Linked DNA regions of Homo sapiens: region 2 is linked to region 1. The links come from fine-mapping of genetic effects on plasma protein levels. A gene starts in region 1. The other region holds a variant in brackets. All regions are shown on one strand. Distances are from middle to middle.

Region 1 (5,337 bases):
TCAACTAGTTTAACATGCATGTTTAATTGAACAAGGTCAAATGCTAGTCAATATTTTGCCCTCCCACCAAATAATAGACCTTTCCCACTCTGATCACTCCTCACCAATTTGTTATTGTTTTATGGTTCTTTAGTTTTATCTCATTTTTTTTTTCTTTTTTAATTTTTTTTTCTTTTTTTTTTTGAGACAGAGTCTCGCTCTGTCGCCCAGGCTGGAGTGCAGTGGTGCAGTCTTGGCTCGCTGCAACCTCCACCTCCCAGTTTCAAGTGATTCTCCTGCCTCAGCCTCCTGCATAGCTGGGACTACAGATGCGAGCCACCACGCCTGGCTAATTTTTGTATTTTTAGTAGAGATGGGGTTTAGCCGTTTTGGCCAAGCTGTTCTCAAACTCATGACCTCAAGTGATCCAACCACCTCAGCCTCCCAAAGTGCTGGGATTACAGGCATGAGCCACCATGTCCAGCCTATTTCATTTTTTTCTAACTCCACAAAGTGGACATTTTTGTAATTATTTTATGCTATCAGTGCTTATTAAATCCACTTCTGTGTTTACATATTTCTTTGCTCACCATTCTTACTTGAATCTTAGACTTTTTTTTCTGAGATTATTTTTCTTGTTTTTGAAGAACATCCTTTAGAATTCCCTTAGGTGAGAGTCTGTTAGCTATAAATGCTCTCAATTTTCATCTGAAAATGTGTCTTTTAAACCTTATACTTGAAAGATAGTCAAGGTTGACAGTTATTTTTTTATTAGTACTTTGAGATGTTGTTCCATCGCCTTCTGGCTTTAGTTATTGGTATTGACATATTAGCTGCCCATCTACTTCATCATTCATCCATCTTCTGTCTAGTGATCAGCAGTTTTGCTACCAAAAATGTTTGGTGTAGATTTCTTTTTATTTATCATGCTTGGGTTGGGGGAGCTTCCAGAATCTGAGGATTGTGTCTTTCATCAAGTCTAGAAATTTTCCATTTTCTTCTAGAACTCTAATTAGACATATTTAAATCCTTGTTCCTTGTCTATGTCTCTTAGCCTCTTTCATATTTTCCACCACTTTGTCCTCCTGTGCTCCATCCTGGGTAAATTCTTCAAATCTATTGTTCACCCCAGTAGTTGTCTCTTCAGCCATATTAATCTGCTGTTTATTTTTATGTATGTATTTATTTATTTATTTTTGAGACAGAGTCTCACTCTCACCCAGGCCGGAGTGCAGTGGCACAATCTCGACTCACTGCAATCTCTGCCTCCTGGGTTCAAGCAATTCTTGTGCTACAGCCTCCTGAGTAGCTGGGACTACAGGCATGTGCCACCTCACCTGGCTAATTTTTGTATTTTTAATAGAGACAGGGTTTCACTGTGTTAGCCAGGCTAGTCTTGAACTCCTGGCCTCAAGCCATCAGACTGCCTTAGCTTCCCAAAGTGCTGAGCCTTAATCTACTGTTTAATCTGTACACTGGGCTTCTATTTTCAAAAATTATGTTTTTACATAACTGCTTGCTTTTTTTCCCTCAATCTTCCTGGTCACTTTAAATAGTCTCTTGTTCCTTATCTATACTTTCAATTACCAACTTTTAATTCTTGAAGCATATGAAACATCCTTATTTTATATTATATATACTGCAATTCCAACATCTGAGATGTGTTCGAAGGTCTGCATTTTTAGTTTATTGCTTGGTGCTCCTCTCACCTAAAGCACCTTGTGTCCTGTGTTTTATGATTTTTCTGTTTTACAAACATGTGAACTCATGTTCCATGGGAGTTTTTCTGTGGGATTTCTTTGAGTCATGAATATAGGATGAGTTACTCCAGAGACAATTTTTATCATTTGTTTCTGCCACGTGCCTAAGGAGCTATTATTTACCTTACTTTAAATTCTTATCTTATCTTTTTGTTTGTTTGTTTTTTGTGTGGTTGTTTTTGCCACAAAGTCACCATGAGTTTCACCTCCAGGCCTATTAGTGGGTAGACTTGTGGTGAGGGGCATTCAGGGTTGACATTTATTTTTCTCCCACTCAGAGTCCATACTGAGTTGGGCAAGCTCTGTGTCAGCTCGCTTTAAGGAATTTTTCTCTCCGAGTTCTCCACTGTGGATGTTGTATTTCAGTGCTCTTTGTTTAAGGCAGAAATTTTGGATTTTGTTTTTCACTTCGATTTTGTTTCTCAGCTTTAACTTTTGTCCATGTTCATAAGACTGAAGCTCTTGGTCAACTGGATCAACAGATACTTCTCTGCTGGCTGTGATCTCTTTGGATTTTTGTTGTCTTTATATATTAACATATACAAGGTCTCACTCTGTTGCCCAGGCTGGAGTACAGCAGTGCAATCTTGGCTTATTAAAGCCTTGACCTCCTGGGCTCAAGCGATCCTCCCACCTCAGCCTCCTGAGTAGCTGAGACCGCAGGTGTGTGCCACCAAACCTGGCTAATTTTTTGCACCTTTTGCAGAGAGAGGGTTTCACCATGTTGCCCAGGCTTATTGTCGTTTTTGATCTCTGATGATTTTCTTCATTTCTCACCACCTCAGCTACACATTTTAAAAGATGGTTTACAATATTTTTGTGGTGTTTTGTATTAGGAGAATTCTTCAGCATCTGCTGTCTACCATATTGTCAGAAATGGAGTCTAGCCATCCTTCCCGGCCCATTTCAAACGGGTTCCTCTTAGGACCAGGAGACCTCACATTATGTGTGTCCTACCTTGGCCTGTGGTTTGGTCACTTGTGTGTGTGTGAACTTCATCCTCCTTGAGGGCAGGAATATGGTTTCCTCTCTTTCACTTCCACAGAGTCCTGTCCAGAGTTCTGCACACCAAGACTGTGTAAATGAATGGAATTGCATCTGGGAGCTCGAGGCACCCATGCAAACCTGTGCTGCCAGTGACTTCCACCAGAGGGCAGCGGCAGCAGGTGCCGGCGCTGGGGCAGGACTGGGAGGAGTCTCACTCTGGGGGCGCCTGGTTCCCCGTGGCTCTAATACTTGCCGCATCAAATGCATACACCCACATTTAGGACCGAACCCAATGGAGGAGGACCGCTCCTCATTCCACATGTTGGGGAAATGAAGACAAGCAAGGATGCAGGAAGTGGAGGGCCAGGAGAGGTGGACCTGGGATGGGACCAATTGAGGCAGGGCCAGGATTTGGAACCAAACCCCTTCTGGATTTGACCACTTCCAGGGCCCTGCTTGGACAACCAAATTATCTATTCCTTTTCTCATTCAATAAACATTTATTCACCTCCTACCATATGCTCCACAGGGAGTACCATGGGAATTAAACACGCTTGGCCCCTGCCTTCTTCCTATAGCGTCAGTCTGCTGCAGTGCAATGGGGCAACTCGGGGTTTCTCAGGCAGCCCTGGGCTTCCTTCCTTCAGCCCTTTGCTCCTGCTATTCCTTCTGGCCCAGAGGCCTCCCATGATTGCTGTTTGTCAAAATCCTGCTCAGCCTTGTAGACCCAGCTCCCATGCCTGACTCCCACGGAGGCATGCCCAGTCTGGTACCTGGAGATGGGATAGCTGGCCCCACTGTGCCATCTGACGGGGCGGCTCCCACAAGGCCTTGGCACCCTTCCCTGTAGAAGGACTTGTGGGATGGCCATCTCTCAGGCCCTTCCCAATTTATATTTCTCTGAGGGGAGACTTAGGCTCTTATCTCCAAAAGTGCATCAAGACCACACCCTCCTTCCCAACCACCATTGCACCTAAGGTTAAGATAAAACTCAGGATTTAATCCAAGAGAGCCAAATTACACGGACCGGGACAGGCAATGGGTCATTCACTCCCTCTTCCAATATGTACTGATTGAGCAGCTACTACATTATCAATTTTTTCTTCTGGGCCACCAGAAATGAGGCATGGCTCTTCCACTTCCCTTCTTCTTAGAAGACCCTCGGGGAAGTGTGTCTGCATGGATGCGTGTGCATGCGTGTGTCTGGCTCCGTGACTCTTGGGGTGCAGCCTGGATGGGTGGGCTCCCAGCACAGGCAGCTGGGGCTCTCCCCACCAGCCCCTGTAACAGCAGCCCAGCTTCCTGCAGACCAAAACCACAAGCAGAACAAGCAGGCGTGAGACACTCACAGGTTGGGTTTGATCGCATGCGTGTCGGAGAGGAGAGAGCAGAGAGAGACACAGGAACAAGAACAGCAAAGGGTAGAGCAGACCTGCGCCAGGGGCGCACAACGGCCGTGTCCACCTCCCGGCCCCAAGATGGTGCTTCCCACAGGCAGCCACGCGTAGCAGCCAGAGACAGCTCCAGACATGTGGCTCTTCTTCGGGATCACTGGATTGCTGACGGCAGCCCTCTCAGGTAGGCCCCCTTCCCTCATCTCCTGCCACTGGTGCTGGAGGAGCCGGGTCCGGCCCTCTCAGTCCCCTTTCTGGTTGTTTCCTTGTGGTCACTTTTCTAGGATCTTTTAGCCAAGACTACACTCAGGTACCAGGGAGGTCCAGCATCTGGGGCTAGGAGAGGACACAGGAGCCCCTCGAGGGGCTGGGGCTGTGCCTGGAAGCCTCCTGGAGTGACAGAATGTGGGAAGCATGCTTTGTGCCTTACCAATGGGTCCCTAGGGTGTGAGGAGGGAGGTGCCTCTCCCATCCTTAAGCTCAGGAACTCCCCCATTTCCTATTTCTTGCCAACTCTTAAGAAGGAACCGTTCACCTTCCAGAGAGGCAGGACCACTGATGGTGGTACTTTCAACGCCAAAGCTGAGGCTTGGGGTCCAGCAGGCGTAGGCCAATCACAGGAGAGCACCTCCCGAAACAGGACTCAGGGAAGCCAGGGAGAGTTCTGGACAACCAGGCGCTGATGGCCTCAGCACAACCAGCTGGGGTAGTCTAGGGCATAAGCGAGCATGAAGGCCACCCCCACGTCTCAAGCTGCCCCCAAGTGTCAAGGCACCTGGCCACCTGGGCCAGGGAATCAGATGGCCAGAAGGTTTGGGGCACTAGACTGTGCTCCCCAGATACTTGCTGGCCCCTGTTGAGTGCAGGGTCCAAGCTGGCCAGAGCGGGGCAGGGGCCTGGAGATGCAAGAGATCCTGACCCCATCGAGCTCTCACATTTTGGGATTTGGGAAGACTGGTATGGAAACAGAATTCGGGCCAGGGGAGTCTGGGTCCACCTTGCAGCCAGAGAGCCAAGTGCTTTCATTTTGTGATGGAGGAGACCCAGGAAGACCCAGTCAGGAGGGGGCATCGAGCTGGTTTGGAGGACTGGGTACATGTCGCGAGACTCTGGGCAGGGAGTGCTCTCCTCTCTGCCTTGATCTCCAGGCATGTGTTCCGAGCCTGTGGCCTCATACTGGTTCAGGGAAAGCCATTCGGCTCTGGGAACTGGAGTTT
Region 2 (5,321 bases), 36 kb after region 1:
GGAGAACACATTTTTGTCTTTATGCATGAGAAAGTGGTTTTCCAGACCCAGAGAGAGAGATGATACAGAGCAGAGCTAAAGCCCCCCTGCCCCACACACATCACATTCACACACACAGTCGTAATCACATATGCACACAGTCCCTCACACACACTCATATGCACACACCTCACAGTCATACACACTGCAGCCATCATTCAATCCCCCTCCCCCACCCCATGTAGTAACATTGAAAACTACGCAGGAGCACTGGGACGGTTGCTGTGGGAACCGGGATTCTGAAATCCTAACTTGTGGGCATCTGAATTCTTGCGCTGAACATTCTAATACATCAGCCACAGAGTTTATGCTCTGAATTTGGAGTCATTTCTCCTCCAGGGGCTCAGGCTGGGCAGCCAGCCAGGGAGTTAGCGAGGACGGCAATTAGAGGGCTGAAGACTTTCTGCCTGATGATGAAGAGGCCCACACGGTTTCCTGGAGAGGGCTGTCTGCCAGGGTGTGCACGCGCACATGCACAAGCTCAGGCTCAGGGGGTATGTCCGTGGAATCTGCTCAGGTGAAGCTCCAGGAATGTGTAGTGGTCATGTCCGAGTCTTCAGGCTCTGTATCGGTCAGGCCGGACTAGGCAAGGCTGTAGCAACAAGGACACCCCCAAATCTTCATGGTTTAACATGATAAGGGCTTACTCCTTACTCACACAAAATCCAAGCTGGGTCAACATCCCCTTCCCTCTTGCAGTTCCTCCGCAACCCAGGGCCTCTAATATCCTTCAACAGGGAAGACGTAAATGGAAATGGCTCACTGCCTCTTCCCTGCTTTGGCTCAAAAGCAGGCAGACGTCTTCTGCCTAGGCTTCAACCAGCCCAACCTAAGTGCAAGAGAAACCAGGAAATGCAGAGGAGTTCATAGGCAACCACAACAGTCCCTGCCCCAGAGCCTCCCTTTGTGCTTTGCAAGCCCAAACATCCCAGCCCAGAGGGGAGGCAAGTCCTTGGAGACAGTTTAAATCCGGGCTCTGCAGCTTGCTCACTGGGTGGCCTCAGGCCCACGCATCAGTTGGGTTCCCACCAGGAAACCTAGAATAGGAATTTAAAGGGGACTTATTTACAGAAGAACTATTTACAAAGGGTAATGCAGTAAGTAGAATCTAAGAGCAACTTCTGGCCAAAGGAGACACAACCAGGGAGTGGTCAGTGAGTCCGAGTAGGAGACAGTCAAGGAGAGGTCACCTTGAATAAGCAATGTCCTTCACATGAGGGACACAGCCTACCCGAGGGACCTCACAGGGGGGGCCAGAGGAATAAGTGTCACATCTTCGCTCTCCTCACTTCTGCCTAGCTCTGCTAAGGCTCCCCATTGGCTGAATCTGACAGAAGCCATAAGGCCCAGGAAGACAGGGGTTAATCCAAACAGATCAGCCTCCCAGGGCAGAATGGATAGTAGCTCTGGTGGAATAAATGGACCCTATCTGGCAGGGACAACTGATTTTTGCTTTTGGAGCCTCCTTTTCCTAATCTGTAAAATAAGAATGCTAACACCTGCCTCATTGCATTGTTGAAAGTAAATGGAATAGGCTGGATGTAGTGGCTCATGCCTGTAATCCCGGCACTTTGGGAGGCTGAGGCAGGCAGATCACCTGAGGTCAGGAGTTCGAGACCAGCCTGACCAACATGGAGAAACCCCGTCTCTACTAAAAATACAAAATTAGCCAGGCGTGGTGGCGCATGCCTGTAATCCCAGCTACTCAGGAGGCTGAGACAGGAGAATCGCTTGAATCTGGGAGGTGGAGGTTGCGGTGAGCCGAGATCAAGCCATTGCACTCCAGCCTGGGCAACAAGAGCGAAACTCTGTCTCAAAAAAAAAAAAAGAAAGAAAGAAAGAAAGTAAATGGAACAATATATGCAAATATGCAAATACCTGTCCTTCATGAATGCTAGTTTCTTAGTGTCTGAAGGCACTTTGCAATCCAGTGGTTCCCAGTCCAGGATGTGTCAATTATTCTAAAGTCTGATATGAAATTCTCAAACAAATTCTATAAACAAAATTTTCTTTTTCTAAATCACTCCCACTTTCGAGCTTTTTCTATATGTCAAGTATTTCATAGGCTGTCTCATTTCAGTCTCACAATATTTTCCTAAGAATCATAGCTGAAAAATTGGGACTGGCACAGAAAGATTAAGTCACCCATTCATGGTCACGAAGCCACTTTGTGTGTCTGGCCCCAGTGCCCACTGCCTTTCCTCCCTGTTCTACTCCGATTTCTGAAGCTGTGTGTGCAATGAATAGGTAAAGCGGAGGATCCTGAAATGCCAATGTTTGAGAACTTTCCCTACCTTGAAGGGAGGCCAATGCACCCAAAGTTGAGGACCACGTCTTTTCCAAAGGCCTCATGTAGCCACCACAGGCTCCAGGAAGTGCCCCCTGCTCATCAGGGTGTCTCTGTGGTCTCCAGGCCTGAGCTCACTCACCCACCATGCTGCTGCTGGTTCATTTCAGGTCATCCATCTCCAGCCCCACCTGACCAGCTCAACACCAGCAGTGCAGAGAGTGAGCTCTGGGAGCCAGGTGAGCAAACATTCCCTCTGGGGGTCCATGATCAGCTTTCTGTAGGTGGTCCCCCAGGGTAATAAAGAAGGGAAATGGACATTTAGGATACCAGGGAGGCTCCCTGACTTCAGACAACACTTCTTCCTGACCCATCACCTGAAGTTCCACTATCAATTCACTTTGAGGTCGTAGAACTACCATTTTTGAGAGGACACTGATAAGTCACATACAGGTGGGCAGGTATGCCTGGAGCATTTTAAGGGGATTTGTTGAGAACAGGCTAGAGTTCTTGGTGGGGGAGGCAGGGTCCTTGATTTACTCAGCAGACGTTTATTAAGGACCTACTGTATGCAAAGATGCATGCTAGCACTGGGGGTACAATCCTGGGCTAAAAGGGGCAGGTGGTTCCCATAGAAGGGGTTCTGGGGAAGTGAGGACCACCATCAGCTGAAGCAGCCCATCATCAACCCCATGGCCAGCCGCTTCACAATCCTCCAAGGTTCCCTAGTCACTGTGACAGCCTCTAGGACAGTACCCTCAGAGGAGCAGAGGGGCCTTCAGGGGAAGCATGCGCCCACTGGACCAGGGCCCCTGAACTCACAACTCTGCCTTTCTTTCACAAACGGGTGCCCCTGGAGACAGGAGCAAGTGAGGAGGGTTTCTAGGGGGCTGGACCCCTAGTTGTCTGTCACCCATCTTAACCTCTAGAGTCACTCCCAAGCCCCACCTTCGGCTGACTCTAAGGAGAACCACAGGGTCAGGCCTCAAGGTGGGCTCAGGGATGAGCCAGCCCGGCTCCATTTTGCAGACTGGAAAGCTGAGACCCCTAGCCAGGCAGGGCGTTGTCAAAGTTCACGCACAGAGTCAGTGGCAGAGCCTGGGCAACCCTCTGCCCAGGCCCCACCGGTCTCAGCTCTCTGGTCTGACACTTCCAGGGGAGCGGCTTCCGGTCCGTCTGACAAACGGGAGCAGCAGCTGCAGCGGGACGGTGGAGGTGCGGCTCGAGGCGTCCTGGGAGCCCGCGTGCGGGGCGCTCTGGGACAGCCGCGCCGCCGAGGCCGTGTGCCGAGCACTGGGCTGCGGCGGGGCGGAGGCCGCCTCTCAGCTCGCCCCGCCGACCCCTGAGCTGCCGCCCCCGCCTGCAGCCGGGAACACCAGCGTAGCAGCTAATGCCACTCTGGCCGGGGCGCCCGCCCTCCTGTGCAGCGGCGCCGAGTGGCGGCTCTGCGAGGTGGTGGAGCACGCGTGCCGCAGCGACGGGAGGCGGGCCCGTGTCACCTGTGCAGGTACGAGCGCACCCCCTACACGGGCCCCCACCTGCCCCACTCCCCAGGCCTTCAGCCACTGCCCCTGGCTCCAGACCCTGGACGCAAGCCTCGCCCTCCAGACCTCCACCCCCACCGCCTACCAGTGCAAACGCACCGGGTTCCCACACCGGAGGACGACCTCGAGTCATTTCCAGATCTGAGCGTTTCCTTGGATCTGGCCTCCAGACTCCACCCCCACACTTGGTTCCTAGTCCCACCCCTGGGTTCCCAAAGCTAACCCGGTCTCTAACCCCACTTACTGGGCCCGCCGCTTCCCTGTCCCCGCCCGCTCTGGGTCTCTCCTCCCCTTTCGCCATATACATAAACATGCCAGGTTCACAGGGTCCCTAAGCGCTGTGGCTCCCAGGCTCCCAAACCTGCCCTCCAGGCCCCGCCCACCAGGTCTCTGGTCCCTCCCACCAGCCTGCGGCTCTACCTAACCCATCTGCAGTCCTGGGGGGATTCCCAGTCTTGCCTACCGGGCTACAGCCCTCTCACTGGGTCCACAACACGCTCACAACTCTCCGGCCAGTCCAACCATCACCCCAACCCTCCCTTCCTGGTCGGGTGCCCCAGCATCCACAACCCCCTCCCACCCCTAGAGAACCGCGCGCTGCGCCTGGTGGACGGTGGCGGCGCCTGCGCCGGCCGCGTGGAGATGCTGGAGCATGGCGAGTGGGGATCAGTGTGCGATGACACTTGGGACCTGGAGGACGCCCACGTGGTGTGCAGGCAACTGGGCTGCGGCTGGGCAGTCCAGGCCCTGCCCGGCTTGCACTTCACGCCCGGCCGCGGGCCTATCCAC[C/T]GGGACCAGGTGAACTGCTCGGGGGCCGAAGCTTACCTGTGGGACTGCCCGGGGCTGCCAGGACAGCACTACTGCGGCCACAAAGAGGACGCGGGCGCGGTGTGCTCAGGTCAGTGGGCGGAGTCACTGAAGCCCGGTCACTACCAACACTCACCATAGGCCTACTGGGCGCCAAGCCTGGAGTTAGTGCCGGAGAGGTGGTCCCTGCCCTTGAGATGTCACAGTTCAGGAGGGGAGATGAGACTGAGACAAACATAATTCAGGAGAGAAAGTGGTAAATGCCCCCAAGAAAGGCAGTCAGGTGGAGTCTAGAGGCAGCAGACCATGCGGAGCTGTAGGCTAAGGCTGACCACCTCCCGGAAGAGGTGACATTAAAAGTGAGACTCTTCCCGAGTGGGAGTTGGCCACCTGCATTCAAGCAGCAAGGGGAGACTGAAGGGAGGGAGGCCTCTGAGGAGGCTGTTGGTCTGTCCAGGTGGGGCCAGAAGGTTCTGGACCAGCCAGTGCCTCTCTTTGATAAGCAGGAGATGGGGGAGGTGGGGGTGTTAAAATGTAGATTCTGATTCAGTAGGTCTGAGGCAGAGCTCCAGAGTCTGCGTTTCTAACAAGATCCCAGGCAATGCCGATGCTGCTGCTCCACAGACCACACTTATCACAGCAGG

Alleles and levels. Alleles are on the strand shown, and positions count from the first base shown. The strength of an association depends on the size of the effect and on how common the allele is.
As copies of T replace C in region 2, the plasma level of the protein whose gene starts at base 4,070 in region 1 goes down (strong association).

The links. PIP is the chance, under the fine-mapping model, that this variant and not a neighbour inherited with it causes the effect. Protein levels are from antibody-based Olink assays in UK Biobank. Linkage for the fine-mapping came from a reference panel and not from the study's own genotypes, which makes the PIPs less certain.
Region 2: its variant is fine-mapped to the plasma level of the CD6 protein (UK Biobank, PIP above 0.99). The variant lies in the coding sequence of CD6. If it changes the protein, the assay may bind it differently, which can mimic a change of level.

Annotation. Positions count from the first base shown.
Region 1 is chr11:60,967,611-60,972,947 of GRCh38, forward strand. It overlaps CD6 (CD6 molecule), which reads left to right and starts at 4,070. Exons shown (of 13, transcript NM_006725.5): 1 at 4,070-4,304. The coding sequence starts at 4,256.
Region 2 is chr11:61,004,078-61,009,398 of GRCh38, forward strand. CD6 (CD6 molecule) reads left to right here. Exons shown (of 13, transcript NM_006725.5): 2 at 2,497-2,565; 3 at 3,483-3,833; 4 at 4,457-4,768. LOC105369326 (a long non-coding RNA gene) reads right to left here and starts at 4,034. Exons shown (of 2, transcript XR_950155.3): 1 at 3,970-4,034; 2 at 1-868. RefSeq lists an enhancer at 3,187-3,895 and a silencer at 3,637-3,836. The variant C/T (reference allele first, on the strand shown) is at 4,660.